Linked DNA regions of Homo sapiens: region 1 is linked to region 2. The links come from fine-mapping of genetic effects on gene expression. A gene starts in region 2. The other region holds a variant in brackets. All regions are shown on one strand. Distances are from middle to middle.

Region 1 (2,767 bases), 20 kb after region 2:
CTCCCTCTCTGGCCTGTGCCGCCTCAGCAGCCCTGGCAGAACTGAAGAGCGGCACCGGGCCCAGCAGGCAAAGAGAGAGGCCTCCCTGGCTTCGAGTGTCAGGGGAGCCGCGTTCCCTCCCAGGGCTGGAGCAGAGGACCACAAGGCAGCAGAAAGCGCGGGTCCAGATGAGGGCCAGGAAGGGGAGGAGAGTGAGGGCCAAGAACGAGCCTTAAGGGAGCAGTCCCAAGCTGGAGCCACCCAGGGCTGGGTCTGGGAGTCCTCAGTGTCCACTTGTCCCAGGTTAGGGGGCTTGCCTTGCTCTCTCCAGGGCCAGTCTGTGTGTGTGGGGACTCAGCCCGTGGCCGGCAGATGCCATCCAGGATGTACAAGGTGCAGCCAAGGCAGGCCATGCAGGGGCCGGGCCTGTCTGCAGCTGGTGGATGCCTGTGGGCATGGCTTTCTCTGGGGACCCCATTCCTGTCAGTAGCAACCCTGGCAGTGTCCGGAGCGGCTCTAGACAACTTTGGTCATAGGAACTCTGGAGGTGGGTTCTGGTCATCTGAGGTGGCTACTCAACAGGTTTGAGGCCCCACAGCAACAGAAGTCCAGGACCCACTAGGTTGCCTCAGAAGCCCTAAGACTGATGAGCTGGAGCGCGCATTTGAGAGAAGCCTCGCACCCACTGTGTACTGGCCCCGCTCAGGCCGGCCTGGCACACCGTTGCCTGCTGGCGGCTCTCATGGGGAAGCGCCTGGGCACTGGGGATTGCTTGTGGCCCACTCAACTCTTGGGGCAGTGGCCCGTAACCCTAGTTTGCCTGAGGCCCTTATGTCCCCTTATGTTCCTGGTACTGGAGCTTGAGCTCTTGCCTGGAACGCTGCAGCTGCACCCACCCTGCTTGATCCCACCTGGGAGGCCAGGACACTGAGGAGCTCTGAACCCAGCCCACAGGGAAGCAGAGGAAGGTGAGCCCCCGCCGCCCCCCAGCCCTTCCCATCCCTTCCCTGCTCCCTGGTGGTCTAAGGACCCAAGCTCCCTAGACTTCCTCTTCCACCGTCTGTACGTTTCAAATTACACTGGTGTAGGCCTGTACTGCTGGTGGGGCTGGGCCCCTAAACGCCAGAAAGTGAATCTTAAGAAGCTCTGCCCTAAACTGAGAACCACATGCTGAGGGAAGGGCTGAAAGGTGAAGGCTCAGCCTCCCTCACATGGGTCCTGGGTTACATTAGGTACCGGGCTGATTGATAGGCATTTGGCCATGGTTCCTTTTCGTCTACCTTTGGGGGCCTTCTCAGGCCCAGAACAAGGCTGTTGTTACTATGTGGAAAAGCTGACCAGTGCTGCACACTAGGGGCACACACCTTTCCATGAGCAGCTCCTGCCCTGTGGCGACAGCCAGCGTGCACCCAGACGCTGGTGCCATGGCGAAGCAGGCGTTCAAGACCATGGAGAA[G/A]ACAACTCCTCATCTAGAAAATGAGGACACCTCAGTGACAAACACACCTTTTTATACCAATCAGTATCCTCTGTTCATTAAAACTGGCTATCCATTACAGCCTAGCCGTCTTTCCTGGGCCGAGAGGAGCCCATGCTTCAGTCACCAGGGACTGTCTGATAGGGCCCACGCCTGTTAGCCATGCCGGCCGACAGCAAGATAGGCCGAGTGCAGAGTGGGCGGGATGCGGGGTCCTGGCACTAGGCTTTTGTGCTTAAGGCACCTCTGCTCACTGACGACAAGGTCAAAGAGCAGTGGTTCTCCACCTCAGCTGCTTATCAGAATCACCAGGAAGGTTTAAAAAGTCCTGATGTCCAGACCCTAAGTCAGAAGCCCTGAGGGGAGGATCCAGGTATTCTCATGCAGAGGCCATGCTTGTCTATGTGGGAAATCCTAGGAATCTACAGAAAGCAGACAACTAGGGAGTCCAGCAAAATCTCGGGTGCAAGATAAACACACAAAAACCTGTTTCTACCTCCTAGAAATGAACATGTAGACACAAAAGTTAAAAATATGTACTGTTTACAATTGCTGAAAAAGGGAAATACTTCGGTTTAAATCTAACAAAATATGCAAGGACTTGTATGCTGAAAATTATAAAACGTGATGAAATCAAAGATTTAAATAGACATGCCATGTTCATGGATTGCTAGACAGAATACAGTAAAGATATCAATTCTCCTCAAATTAACATACAGGTTAAATGCAGTTCCTATCAAAATCCTAGAAGATGTTTTGTAGATGTAGACAAGGTTATTCTAAAATTCATATACAAATTTATAGCAAAAATATTTTGAAAAAGAATAGAGTGAGAGGAGGAATCAGTCCAGCTGATTTCAAGATCTACTATATAGCTATGTGAACCAAGAGTGCAATGCTGGCAGAGGCACAGACACACAGATCGACAGAGCCGAGATCATCACGGGAACAGGACCACACAAATATGCCCAGCTGACTTTAAGGTGCAAAAGTAATTCAATGGAGGAAGGACAGCCTTTCAACAAACGGTGCTGGAGCAGCTGGACCAGCTATAGGATTAAAAAAAAAGAACTTTAGCCTAAGTCTTACACATTATACAAAAATTAACATGGCTCACATGCATACTTAAATTTAAAACTATAAAACTTCTTTTAGGAAAAAACAGATAACCTTTGGGATCTAAGACTAGGTAGAGTTGTTCTTAAATGCAACACTAAAAGCAACAGTCCATAAAGGAAATATCAGTAAAGTGGACTTTATCAAAACTGAAAACTTTTGCTCTGTATAAAACCCTGTTAAGAGGGTGAAAAGATG
Region 2 (2,794 bases):
TGGACTGGGCCTCCCCCACAATCCCAGGGCAGCCACCACTTTTGTGGTCCCTGCCTGCCTGTGGGAGGGGACAGCCCAGCTCTAGTGTTTTCCCACAGTGGTGGCTGCGGGGCTGGGAACGAGACCATGGCCATAGCCCCTTGGGAGCCAGCCTTGGCTTCTGGCCAGAAGGAGAAGTCAGGGCACTGGGAGTCCAGGGGAGAAGCGGAGTGGTGGGGGGGGTGCCTTCCCAGAACTCAAGACGGGTAGTGGGAATGAGGGGCCAAAGGAGTGGAAGGTTGTGGAGATGAGATCATTGCTTGTGTGAGGATGGGGTTCTCAACCTGCTTAGGGGAGGAGAAACGACTTCCAGCCTTCTACCCACCAGGAATGCTAGGGTCTTCCGTGCCCCAACTAGCGGGGGAAGGAACTTACATCCAGTGTGCACCAGACCACTGTCCTGGAGAGGGACTGGCACAGAACCCAACCTGCATTCTGTCGTTCATGCACTCTTTCTAAGCCGATCAGGCGGTCTCCCCTGTACACTTGATCGTGGCTTGAGCAGGCAGCTGCCTGGGTTTTAACTGGGAATTGAGAAGGCTGGGGTCCGCTGAGGAGCACGCTGCGAAGGTGCGCGGTCCGCAGACGGCCTCCCGGTGGGTTTTGATCATGAAGACCGATTCCGTAAACTCAGCGCCCACTGTGGGGCCAGGGGGTTCTGCACAAACCAAGGCCCTGCCCCTGCCCTGAGGTGGAGCTACAGGCAGGACAAGTTGTGGCCACCTGCCCCTTGCTGGACTTGTAAGGAAGAGCAGGGTACGGGGAGGGGCGTCTCGAGGCCTTTCCAGCCGTCACTTTGCCGCTGCCCCGGGGGCGGTCGGCCTTGGTCCGGGGTGGTGCCAGGAAGAGGGGCTAAAAACCGTGGAGCGCGCCCCGGCCCGATGGCTCACGCCTGTAATCCCAGCACTTTGGGAGGCCAAGGTGAGCGGATCACGAGGTCAAGAGATCGAGACCATCCTGGCGAAACCCCGTCTCTACTAAAAAATACAAAAAATTAGCCGGGCGTGGTGGCGGGCGCCTGTAGTCCCAGCTACTCAGGAGTCTGACGCAGGAGAATCGCTTGAACCCGGGAGGCGGAGGTTGCAGTGAGCCGAGATCGCGCCACTGCACACAAGTCTGGGTGACAGCGAGACTCCGTCTCAAAAAAAAAAAAAAAAAAAAAAAAGACCGCGGAGCGCGTGGCGCCTCCCTGCCCTAGGGACTAGGGGCGGTAAAGAGAGGAGGCTGCGAGGTCGCTGGACGGCTGGGTCATGGCGAAGGTAACGGGAAAGCTCCCGACCGGACCCAGCTGCCTCATCCCCACACCCTGCAAGGCCAGGCGGCCCGGCGGCCCTCCAGCGGCGCGCGGCTCCCGGAACCCAGCGCCTCAGTCCTCGCTTGGCCTTGGACGCCCTCGCGCGGAGGCCTCGGGGCACGGCCGGGCGCAACAAGCCCCGCCCTACCGTTGCAATTGGTTCTCGAGCTAAGGCCTAGGCGTTTGATTGGTCAGCTTTGGCGAGAAGGCGGGACTAGGGCGACAGCCGCGGACGCCGAGCGGCCAGATCAGGGACGCGGGGCGGGCCCTGCGTCCGCCCCTCCCGCCGAGGCTGAGCCTGAGACCCGGGGCGGATCGACTGACGCCGGGGCCGGGATGGCGACGCCTCGGCCCTGCGCGGACGGGCCCTGCTGCTCGCATCCCAGCGCGGTGCTCGGCGTACAGCAGACGCTGGAGGAGATGGACTTCGAGAGGGGTGAGGCTGCCGCGCGGCCCTCGTGGTTCTCACCAGGCCCCGGCCCAAGGAGGAGGCGTGGGGCCAAGGAGAGGCGGATGAACGGGGCCCCGAGAGCTTGGGGCTTGGGGCTTGGGGCCTGGTGCGGGAAGGCGGGCGGGACCCACGGTTCCCGTGTACTGAGAGCCTCCCAGGGCCCCGCACGAGCTCGGCCAGGAGACACCTGTCCCGCGGGCGGCGGGGAAGCGGAAGCACTGGTTTCCGTAACCCTCCCGAGTAGCGGGGGACGACCTCCCCTGGGAGACACAAGCCTGCTCAGGTGTTTGAGAGAGGGCCCGGGGAGCAGAATCTGCACCAGGGGCATTGCACCCAACCTGAGGGGCATGGAGCTGCAGGCCTGGGGGCTGCGCGGTGAAGGAGAGCAGTGGCCTTTGTTTAGCCCCGGGTGCCAGGCAGCCTGCATGCTTTAAAGATGGCAAGAGCTTCGCACGGGCAGCCTTCGAGGCAGGGCACAGTATCTCATCTGTGGGACCCAGAGAGGTAACACGTTTGGCCCAGATTATACAGAGATTATGGTGCCAATAGGAACAGAGGAAGGCGGGAAACCAGGGTGCTTCTTGTGAGCGTTGGGAACCACTGTGCTGTGTCATCTGCCCTTGCGGATGCAGCCCTCGATTGCCACTGCTGTGTAAGCATTCTCATGGAACTCTTCCTTTACCGTGGTTCTGGCACCTGCCTACTTCCCTCCGCCCCTCCTACCGCTGTCCTCTGCACTGCTGAAGTGGTTGCCTCAGAGGGTCTTTCTGCTTCCACGCTTGCCTTCCTACAGGGTTTTCTACTCTCACATAGCAGCCAGAGCGGCTTTTTGAAAATTAGAAATCACATCATTCCCTGTTATGGCCTACAAAGCTCTGTAGACCCACCCCTGCCGGTTCTACTTCTCCTCCTCATTTTATTTCTCATGCTTTTCTTCCCCCAATCACTACGCCGCAGCCACACTGGTCTTGTTTTGGTGTCTCAAATATGCAAGACCTTTTCCTGAGTTA

Which allele goes with the higher level. Alleles are on the strand shown, and positions count from the first base shown. SD is a standard deviation of normalised expression in the study named.
For the expression in skeletal muscle of the gene that starts at base 1,641 in region 2, allele A in region 1 goes with a higher level than allele G (moderate effect, 0.69 SD a copy in GTEx).

Evidence for each region.
Region 1: its variant is fine-mapped to the expression of ANKRD39 in skeletal muscle (GTEx, PIP 0.94).

Annotation. Positions count from the first base shown.
Region 1 is chr2:96,836,679-96,839,445 of GRCh38, reverse strand. ANKRD23 (ankyrin repeat domain 23) reads left to right here. Exons shown (of 9, transcript NM_144994.8): 9 at 1-1,534. It also overlaps a transcript of CNNM3 not described here. Among named protein-coding and RNA genes, the nearest start is that of ANKRD23, 6.0 kb to the left of the region's middle. RefSeq lists enhancers at 1,010-1,564, 1,565-2,121. The variant G/A (reference allele first, on the strand shown) is at 1,436.
Region 2 is chr2:96,856,863-96,859,656 of GRCh38, reverse strand. ANKRD39 (ankyrin repeat domain 39) reads left to right here and starts at 1,641. Exons shown (of 4, transcript NM_016466.6): 1 at 1,641-1,769. The coding sequence starts at 1,670. RefSeq lists silencers at 1,111-1,780, 1,811-1,980.